Homo sapiens: one gene and its partners. The protein of the gene in region 3 interacts with the protein of the main gene of each other region in a biochemical or structural test. Each region holds a gene or a part of one and is shown on either strand. Other genes may lie near its edges.

The links.
Region 1: the proteins of CD40 (region 3) and TANK interact in a test that uses a peptide from one of them, tested with the Homo sapiens proteins (one study listed by BioGRID).
Region 2: the proteins of CD40 (region 3) and RBPJ form a complex in vitro, tested with the Homo sapiens proteins (one study listed by BioGRID).

What each region holds. Positions count from the first base shown.
Region 1 is NC_000002.12:161,166,833-161,170,486, reverse strand, and holds part of TANK (TRAF family member-associated NF-kappa-B activator), read right to left. Parts: intron 1-3,654.
Region 2 is NC_000004.12:26,414,981-26,418,634, reverse strand, and holds part of RBPJ (recombining binding protein suppressor of hairless), read right to left. Parts: intron 3,161-3,654; coding exon 2,995-3,160; intron 1-2,994. UniProt on the Homo sapiens protein: Transcriptional regulator that plays a central role in Notch signaling, a signaling pathway involved in cell-cell communication that regulates a broad spectrum of cell-fate determinations.
Region 3 is NC_000020.11:46,124,811-46,128,464, forward strand, and holds part of CD40 (tumor necrosis factor receptor superfamily member 5 isoform 1 precursor), read left to right. Parts: intron 1-1,829; coding exon 1,830-1,891; coding exon of another isoform or gene 1,892-1,931; exon of another isoform or gene 1,932-2,351; intron 2,352-3,168; exon of another isoform or gene 3,169-3,327; coding exon 3,328-3,414; coding exon of another isoform or gene 3,415-3,426; intron 3,427-3,519; coding exon 3,520-3,548; intron 3,549-3,654.

The DNA of each region.
Region 1 (3,654 bases), on a different chromosome or scaffold from region 3:
TAGTGATCTGCTTTTTAATTATTCTACAAGAAGTATATAGAATTTCGGAACAAAAATAGCAGTTGCTAAGGTAGAAGACTTTCTCAAATAAATAAATAAAGGTATTTTGATACTTTGGCAGATGGCCCAGAGCAACAGCACTTTGTTCATCTTGCTTCCATAAAACTTCCACAACTCATCAACTTAATTAATAGAGAAAACAAATGTTTTCTCTATTAATGGCATTTGTTGAAGTTCTTGTTGAGAAATTTGACTGACCATAGCCCATCTCCCACTAAGTAGCAATGACACTTTTAACTTGATGTTCCTCCTATCAATACTCTAATCATCTTAATTCTATTTCAATTCTCAAACTATCTACAGATAGTTGAGAGACAAGATAGATCTCAAAGACATGCCTTTAATTCAAAGAGGCACAAAGAGTCATGGATAAGAAGGACAATCTCAGTCTTCTGTTTGGATGGCAATCATCCCAACAATGAAGAAGGTGGTTCCCTATTTGATCATGGGAAGCACTGGGGTTAGGGTCGGAACAAAGATCTATTTGCAGGTGCTTTACATAAACTACCTCATTTTTAATCTTCCCTCTGCAGAAGCATATATTGTCTTCCCTTTACAGAGGAGGAAACTGAACTTCAAAACTGAGCTTCAAAAGGGTAAATAAGTTGCATAAGGCACAGAATTAGAAAATGGAAGAACCAGATAAACCTAGGTCTCTGTTGCTAAAGCACAATCTCTAGCTCTCTCCCCTCTAATTTTTTATTTTAATCAGAGCTATACGTACCTATATCTTAATGAGTTGTGTAGTTCTACAAAATAAGAAAAACAGTAGTCCTCTGCTTTCCCCTTCCTATTTCCTGCTTCACCTTCGCAACAAATTTTGACTAATTCTTTTTTGTATTTATCTCTGTATCCCTAAATAACATGTAATACTGCCACTACTGATTTTTCAGTTTTTGTCTCTTCATTATGGAAAATTAGGATTCAGCTCTCTTTAAATATCCCCTACCTCCTATTCTCCCCCATTTCCCCAATACAGTTATATCTAATTTTTCATTAGATTAGCATTCAGCTTTTACTTTCTTATTACTATGTAATGCTATTCACTGTTGAACAATACCATGGATACTTTTCCTTTTCTGAAAACTTTTTTCCCTGAAAATTCTTGTTTGCTTTGTTTCCTATTATCACTAATACAACTCCTCAATATATTCAGACACGTCAGGTATTCTATCTCTTTAGAAGAATCACTCTGTAAGCTTTCTGGCTTGCTCCAATCTAGACTAGTTGCTCTCTATGCCTGATGGAAAGCCTTCATCTTGGGACCTTCTTTACCTTGAATTTGGGGATACCCTTTGTCCATCTCTTTCTTTAATTGAATCCCTCATTTTCAGTCTCCTGAATCTTGTTTTATATCCCCACGTGGTGACGCAAATCTTGTAGCAGCTTCCTAAGAAAGTGTTTGGGAAGTAAATTTTTTGAGGCTTTGCATAACTAAAAATATCTTTACCCTCTGACTTAACGGATCCTTTGGCTAGATTAAGAGTTCTAGGTTGGAAGTAATTTTTCCTCAGAATTCTGAAAGCTTTGCTATGCTATCTTCTAGCTTCTGTTTATTTTTTTTGAGGATCAGATCCATTTTGATTCCTGATCTTGTACAATTCTCACTCTGTTGCTCGAGGCTGGAGTGCAATGGTGTGATCTCAGCTCATTGCAACCTCCACCTCCGGGATTCAAGCGATTCTTGTGCCTCAGCCTCCCCAGTAGCTGGGATTACAGGCGCACGCCACCACACCCAGCTAATTTTTGTATTTTTAGTAGAGACGGGGTTTCACCATGTTAGCCAGGATGGTCTTGAACTCCCAGCCTCAGGTGATCTGCCTGCCTCGGCCTCCCAAAGTGCTTGGATTATAGGCATAAGCCACTGTGCCTGGCCTTAAACCGATTTTTTTCTCTTTGAAAACAATTAGGATTTTTTTTCTTTTTGTCCCTAGGATTCTGAAATTTCAGGACCATACTTGGCCATGGACTATATCATAGCAATAGGTGTTTGGTGGGCCCTTTCAATCTGGAAATTCCTCCTTCAGTTCTTGGAAATTTTCTTGAAAATTTTTTGGGGCAATTTCTTTCCTTTTGTATTCCTTTCTGGGACTTCTACTATCTGGGTTTTGAATCTTCTGTACTGGTTCTCCAATTCTCCTTATTCTGCCACTCCTTTTAAAATGAACTTCCCTCCTTATTTCATAGTGAGAAATAAAAACTTTTAATGTGAGGAGTGCAAACCCATTTTAATTATCAGGCCCAGAGAGGCACTGAAATGTAAGTGTGTGACAGCAGTCACACCTCACTCTCCCGTGAACTAAATGACCCTCTTGAAGCTACCTACTATGTGATGCCAAGTAGCCATAAAATGCCATACGTTAGATACCAAAACTCATGCCCTATAGTTCAACAATGTATAATCACTAATCAATGTTATTTCTGTAAACCAGTGAGAATTCCTATCAAATAACTTAGTATCAGCCCATTCTTTGCTCTCTTTTGCCTTTAAAAACCTGGTTGCGGCCAGGCACGGTGGCTCACACTTGTAATCCCAGCACTCTGGGAGGCCGAGGCGAGCGTATCACAAGGTCAGGAGATCGAGACCATCCTGGCTAACACGGTGAAACCCTGTCTCTACTAAAAAATACAAAAAAATTAGCCGGTCGTGGTGGCGGGCATTTGTAGTCCCAGCTACTTGGGAGGCTGAGGCAGAAGAATGGAGTGAACCCAGGAAGCGGAGCTTGCAGTGAGACAAGATCGCGCCACTGCACTCCAGCCTGGGTGACAGAGAGAGACTCCATCTCAAAAAACAAAAACAAACAAACAAACAAACAAAAACCTGGTTGCAACAAAGGCCGAATGGAGCAACCCCCCAAGGCAACCTGGAAGTGTGTCCAAGGCAGCTGTCGTCAACCTTTACCCAAATAAATTCCCCATATTAATTTTGCCTCCATTTCTTTAGGTTGACAATAGATACAATATCTTAAGTCTGTTGTCTTTGGCAGCCATTATCCTGCCAAATGACAGCCAACCAATCCTGGATAAAGAAAGTAGTAATCAAGGGTAAGTAGTGGTGCCTCTGGAGCTGCACTGAGGCTGACAGTGTATGAGCCAAATCATGTTCCACCTCTAACTGCCTGTTCAACCAGAACATCTGAGCTTTGATCAGTTATGTATATATACATTGGAATTCCACGTTTGAAGAGAATCAAAGGCTTAAAGGTAGGATTTTCGCCATCTTGACCCCAGGATGATTAGTCATTCTTTAGTAAGGTCTACTTTTTTGTAGGTGGTTGAGACAAGTGTGAGTAATTTGGGAGGCAGGCAAGGCCCCTCTGCTGGGTTTCCCCAACTGCTGAGCCTATTCTGTTTCTGGGTAAATGTTCTGCCAGAGTTCACACTTGTGGTGAGAGACCAACTCAAATCTAAAGCAGTTTCAGGATGGGGAAAGGAAACCACCTTGAATAACTGCTACTCCTTCCACTTTGCCCTAGAAAAGAAAGCCACCAGCCTTTCCCAACCCCTTGGGCTATGAATAAGAGGAGTTCATATTCTATTTCAGAAAAGTTGCCACTGTAGTACATAAAGAGGTGAATCAGTGAATGAAAGACA
Region 2 (3,654 bases), on a different chromosome or scaffold from region 3:
AGAAAATACTGAAATCCAGCATAAATAAGACATATTGGCAAACAAGAACGGAAAAAAAGAACCAAGAAGGTTGGATCATAAGACCTACACAAAAAGAACTGCATTTTGTTCGGAAAAAACAAACACACATATATCTCCTTGGAAAGAAAGGAAATATATCCCTAATTACAATGAGTAGTTTGAATCCACAAAAATCATAATCAAGATAATTTTATGGGAACTATTAGTTTTAAAAAACTATAAGGCCACTGACCACAAACTACTCAAATTCCATTAAGAAAAGAAGGAAAAAGTCACTGACTCATAGAAAATAAGCAAATAAAACTAAAATTACATTTGCCTTGCTATTGCAAAAGGTTAAATTAGCTAACGGAATTCTAGAAGAGAAAATGGCATATAATCATCTCTCTAGAAATACTCTTTGAAAACAAGATCTTTAGGCAATAAAAGACATTTCCCTGAAAGAAAGAAGAAATACCAAATCTAATGCTGCAAAGTGATACTGCAGAAATGTTTAAATTATAGAAACAAAATGTTACCAAGAGTATATGATGTTTAAAAATAAGAAAAACACAAGAGTGTTAACTAAGTCATCCTTGTTGCGTAGCTTACCTAGCTGTGACTATAAAAAATGTAAATTTTTTTAACAAATTAAAAACATTACACAAAATCTAAGATCCAACATATTACCTACATACAGCCAAATGTCATGACCATAAATTTAAAGGGCTAGATATACTAGAATTTTGTTGCAGTGAATATTTAAAATAAGTATAAACACCAAAAATTGCAAAATGAATATCCCATATTTCTCAATAACTAATTGTACCACTCAATGAACAGACTATTTCCTTACACGAATGGAGTTTAAGTGAGGCAGACAAGAGCAAAGTGCCTCTCACTGAAGCTCAGAATCCGCTGCTCAGGACATCTTTGCCTACCTTGGTCAAAACCATGTTCTTATACCTTTATGCTCTAAGCACATGATTATATTGTTTTTTTTTCTGCCTGGGATGCCTTCTACTAACTCTCACCAGTCTTGCTTTACATAAACTTCCCTAATAGAATTTTTCCTTAAAATTAAATATTAACATATAATTTTGGCTTACAGACATTGTACTAACCTATTACTAGGTATTTTAAATACTAGTTAAATGCTCAAGCTCTCAGGTATTCTATTCCTCTTCTGCCAGTTTCTAGGCCTTGGGGAAAGGGTATACTAGTGGAAGTTGAAGAAAGATATAATGAAAAACAGCAGAAAGATCTCCATGTTGAGGCAGCCCCTAAAGGTACAAAATTAGGATGTGGCACTACTAAGCCACAATGCTGCGAAAGGCAAGCAGTGATACTACTGGTTGGTTTATTTGGTATCACCTCATTTAAAATTACTGGAAGCTGGAACTGGTTAAAATGAGCAATGAAGTAGGATTAAACAGTTATACACACAGGTAGCTAGAATCCCTGGCTTCTCACTACCTATCTGATCCACTCATTCATAGTACTGAATGTCTACATGTGAAGCCTGGAGACATATAACTCTGAGACTTCCTAGGTAACAAGAAAACAGATGAGACAAGACTTAAGATCTATTAGATCAACCCACCACTTAAATATATTCGTTACTTTAGCTCAGGGATCATAATTTAGAAATAGTTTTAGTGGTTTAAGATGAAACAATCTTTATTGTAATAAGTATTATCCCAAATCTAATTTAAAATACATAGTCAACAAATCTTACTTACAAAAACTATAAAGATATAAATGACATACAAACAGCTAAATTTGAAGGAGGTTGACATTAAGACCTGTAGTACTATCTGTAAAATCACTAAAATTCAATTTGAGAGTACAAATCCCCTAGCTCACCTCCACCAACACTACTCCCAACCCATATACCTAGTGCCAACTACAACATAGCAAACACTAAAATATTCAACAAGGATGTATCAAATAATGAAACAGCTGTTTATGCGCTATTTTAGAAGATGTTTAGTCATTGAGATCAGAACTAACCATTTTCCAAAGTACAGTAGCAAGGAAAAATAAAACCATAGCTAAATTCTAAGTGAATAAAAAACTATCTTTCAATACTAAAAGTATAGATTGGCTGGACACGGTGGCACACACCCGTAATCCCAGCACTTTGGGAGGCTGAGGTGGATGGATTGCTTGAGCTCAGGAGTTCAAGACCAGCCTAGGTAACATGGCGAAACCCCATCTCTACAAAAAAATACAAAAAAGTTAGCTGGACATAGTGACACACACCTATGGTCCCGCTACTTGTGAGGTGGAGGTTGCAGTCAGCCAAGATTGCACTATTGCATTTCTGCATGGGTGACAGAGTAAAAACCCTGTCCCGGGGGAAGAAAAAAAAAGATCTAGATTGACTGCTTTCTAAATTCATACAATATAATCAGTAAAACTAGCTGATAGATTGTTTTCTCTAGAAAATTAATTGAAGAACCCCTGCCACGCACTAAAATTTGAGTAAAGCCAACTGTGGCTGTTCTTGTCTACAGTATCACTCTGCTTCACTCTGATGTCAAGTAAACGTTTATGATCGTTATAACCCAGATAAATGCTTTCCACAATGTATATATCATCGTGTCTAGTATAAAACTAAGATTAAAATAGCAGAGTAAAACATTACTGAACAATGTATTTTTGTTGATAAACCTCTGTCAAACAGAAGATGAGCAATCAGCCTCCTAAATTTATTACTGGCTTCCAATAGAAATCTGATTTATAGTCTGCTAAAACTGCTTGCAAGCTGGGGAAGCTTACTGCATGCCACCTTCCAATGTCAGCAGCGTAAGCTTCATGAGTGACTAGACCAAAGCTATGAGAGGCATGTTTTTTGGTCCTAGTTTATATATTCAAGAAATTGTTACCAATAGTTATTAAAGAAAAAAATCTCCACCACAAAAATGAATATGAAAACTACATTCTGGTACCATGGTGCCCCTTTCTGGTGAACTAGCAGTCTTGATTTACCTTTCCTTCCAAGTTTAGCTGCTGCATTTCTTGGTCACTATTTCCTATCCCAATAAATGCACACGGTTGAGACTCTTGTTCAGAACAACCATCGCGTTCCATTTGTTCTTTTTTTTTCTTCCATCCACTGCCCATAAGATATACACAAGGAGGTGGGCAAAAAAACCTGAAGAATAATAGGGGAAAAAAAAAAACAAGAAGCAAAAATCAATTAGATTCAATAAAGCATTTCCTTTCCTTGAACATTATGAATACAAAATCATATTGAAATGCACCTATTCCCCAATGAAAAATTTTGGTGAAGCCTTTTGTAATGCAAATAATCATGCCCACAGGACAGAAATCGGGACTTCCACAATGACTAAATCTGTTCAGGCAAAATATTGGAGTTATGCATACAGTTAGATTAAATACTTTTTAGAGTACAGAACTTCTCTTTGTATGGCTCAGAGTTCTAAATTACCAGAGTTCAGCAAATCCAGTGTACTCTAACATATTACAAAACACGATAAACCACCACAAAAATCTGTAATTACTAATTAAGGCCTATTCAAAATGACACAATCATTAATGAGTGACATTACTATTATGGATACTGCATTTAACTTAATGTGGTAATTAACCTGGAAAATTGTGTTAGAGCATTGTCCATAGTAGAAA
Region 3 (3,654 bases):
GGCTGGAGTGCAGTGGCGCAATCTCGGCTCACTGCAAGCTCTGCCTCCCAGGTTCACGCCATTCTCCTGCCTCAGCCTCCTGAGTAGCTGGGACTATAGGCGCCCGCCACCACACCCGGCTAATTTTTTTGTATTTTTAGTAGAGACGGCGTTTCACCGTGTTAGCCAGGATGGTCTTGATCTCCTGACCTCGTGATCCGTCTGCCTTGGCCTCCCAAAGTGCTGGGATTACAGGCGTGAGCCACCGTGCCCGGCCACCAGTGGTATAGTATTAATGGAATCAGTGCATTGGCTTACGTATCTGATTACAGCTCAGTAAGTGTGTGACCCTCACTGAGCCTCAGTCTCCTCATCTGAAAAATGGGAATGACCTTCATTTCACAAGGCTTGAGCTAAAAACATGTAAAGTGTATTGTAAATTCCTGAATGCTCTACTCATGTAAGACTAAAGTAGGCCGGGCGTGGTGGCTCACACCTGTAATTGCAGCACTTTGGGAGGCCGAGGAGGGCAGATCATGAGGTCAAGAGATCGAGACCATCCTGGCTAATATGGTAAAACCCTGTCTCTACTAAAAATACAAAAATTAGCTGGGCGTGGTGGCGCACATCTGTAGTCCCAGCTACTCAGGAGGCGGAGGCAGGAGAATTGCTTGAACCTGGGAGGTGGAGGTTGCAGTGAGCTGAGATCGCGCCACTGCATTCCAGCCAGTCTGGCGAAAGAGCAAGACTCTGTCTCAAAAAAAAAAAAAAAAAAAAAAAAAGACTAAAGTACATGGTTTCTTCAAAGCTTCTCTCTCTTTCTCCCACCTTAGATGATTTTTCCTTTGCAATGTCCTGTGTCCATTCCGCCCCACTCCTCCTGGGGCCACCTGGACCAGGTCTTCATCATCTCATATCTATATGTTTGCTGTGTCTCCTGGCTGGCCACTCTTCTGTAATTTCTCCTCCTCTGAGCTCTCTGGGCAGCTGAATCTTCTCACTAGTGAAGTCGCCTGGTTGGATGCTGATGAGACTGACCAGCTGAATCCAGTTGAAAACTTCACACTTGGCAGTGATCTGGTTCTAAAGACACAATTTTCCATAGTTTCCTAACACCATCCTGCATGCCACCTGCCTTATTTCCCCACATCACATCGTCCCACTTAGCGGGACTGCACTGCTGATCCAAATTTTACATCCTTTAGGGCCCACTCAGGTCATATGTCCTCAGGGAAGTCTTTCTGGAAGAACCTTAAACCAGAGGTTCTCAACAGGGGGCAGTTTTGCTCCCTGTGGAACGTTTGCCAATGTCTGGACACATTTCATTCGTCACAAACGGAGAGGGGGATGCTACAGGGATCTGGCGGATAGAGGCCAGGGATGCTGCTGAACATCTGCAATGCATAGGACAGCCCACCCCCACCCCCACACCCCCAGTAAATAATGATCCAGCCCAAGTGTCACTGGTGCTGACGTTGAGTAACCCTATCTTAAGCTGAACTCATCATCTCTCCATTCCAGCCTTGGTGGATTCTGTCTCCTCTGAACCATTCCCATCTCACTTTAGCCTACCTAGATCACAAAGCTTGGCACTCATTATAGACTCCCCTATTTATTACTCCTTCAAGATGTGCAAGAATCTTTTCTCTGCACTTTTAAGTTCTGTAAGAAGAGTCTGTGTCGTTCCTATAATAACCAGCATAGGACGTTGCACGTGTTGTGTGCTCAGTGAACCTGGATTTGTTGATTGTTGACTGACTCACTCTAGAGTTGGAAATCTTATGCTTGGGGAAACTTAATATCTCTTTCTTTCTCTGTGTGTGTGCATTTGTGCACGTGTCTGTGCATAGCTGTGAGACCAAAGACCTGGTTGTGCAACAGGCAGGCACAAACAAGACTGATGTTGTCTGTGGTGAGTCCTGGACAATGGGCCCTGGAGAAAGCCTAGGAAGGTGGGAACTGAAGGGGGAGATGAGGCACACAGGAACACTGGATGGGAAAAAGGGGAGGGGAGGCAGTTTGGGGGTGTGGTATCACAGCTCTGCCACTTATCTTGGGAGTCTGGGCAAATCACTTCCCCTCTCTTAGCCTCAGTTTCTTCATCTGTAAAATGGGATGATAACAGCACTTCCTTAGTAGGTTTTGATTTTAGAGTGAGAAGGTTGGCCTACAGTAAAGATCAGATAATGTAAATCAGTGAAAAAGGTCAGGGGTAAGAAAATTACATTCTCTTTACCTAACGCTAAATGACCAGTTAATGGGTGCAGCACACCAACATGGTACATGTATACATATGTAACAAACCTGCACATTATGCACATGTACCCTAAAGCTTAAAGTATAATAATAATAAAATTTAAAAAAACGAAAAATACATTCTCTTTGCTTTTTCTCAAAATGTACTTTCCTCTTTGTAGGGCTGGGACTAGAATGAGGTGAGCAAGGCACTTGCCCTCGGGCGCAATATTTAAGAAGGTGCCATAAAAGTGTAGTAATCAAGGTAAATTCATTTTGATGCAATATTTTTAAAAATAAAAATTAATGCAAAGAAATCCATGATGAGCAAGATAGCAACATTTTAAATAAAGAACAGGATCCGACCCTGTGTTTGCATGACCCTGCCTCACTCACCTCACCCTAATCCTGGCCCTGGTTCCAGTAAAAGGAATAGGCAGCCAGCCTGCAGGCCGTAGTTTGCTGACTTGGTGTCCGCCTGATGATTTTCAAAATATGGCATTAAAAGAATGTTTACCTTGATGACTGAGTGTTTTGGACATCCTTTTCAATTTTGTCCTGAAACAATTTCATCCCTTGCCTCACGCTAGTCTCCGCCCTGCCTTTTGGTCTTTCTTTTATTTTCCCACTTTGAAAAAAAAATTCGGCATGAGAAATACTTTACCTTTCCCCTCCACTCTTCTATACCAAAAGCAACATGCAGACATGAATCATGCTAGACCTCGGCATTGGGCAGAGAGCAGGGAGTGGCGGGGAGCATGGTGAGCAGGTGGTGACAGCCACTGCCACCACTCGCTTCTAGATGGTTCCCAGGTGGGGAGGCTGCCAACTGGAACCCAGTCTTCCCAGTTTGTAAGAGAAATCAGATGTCTAGGTTTGAATATGTGATCTCCCAGTTTAAAAATGTCGGCAAATATTTCCAAACGTTAAGAAAATGTTCTGGCTCCTTTAAAGACATCTGCCAGCCACATTTCCCCAAGGACCGCGGTTTGAACCTTCTGATGTAGATGAGCTCTGACATTGGAAGATTCTGGAGTCTGACAAGTCACAGCAGGTTGAGGGTAGGGAGAAACTGCAGGTGAGGGGTGCATGCTGAAGTCCTGATTTCTCCAGGTCCCCAGGATCGGCTGAGAGCCCTGGTGGTGATCCCCATCATCTTCGGGATCCTGTTTGCCATCCTCTTGGTGCTGGTCTTTATCAGTGAGTCCTCAGGTGGGGAGGTGTTGGGGGAGGGAGGGGAGACCACCTGTTTCTTATCTGGCCTCTCCAACTCCCCATCCTTTTTTTTTTTTTTTTTTTTTTTAGAAAAGGTGGCCAAGAAGCCAACCAATAAGGTAGGTCACCCCTGAGAACCCGGGACAGAGTTTTGACAAACTGGGAAGATGGCCTCACGGTTGCCTATGGGGCAGTAAAACTGATTCAGAGTCTGTCTCTGCAGCC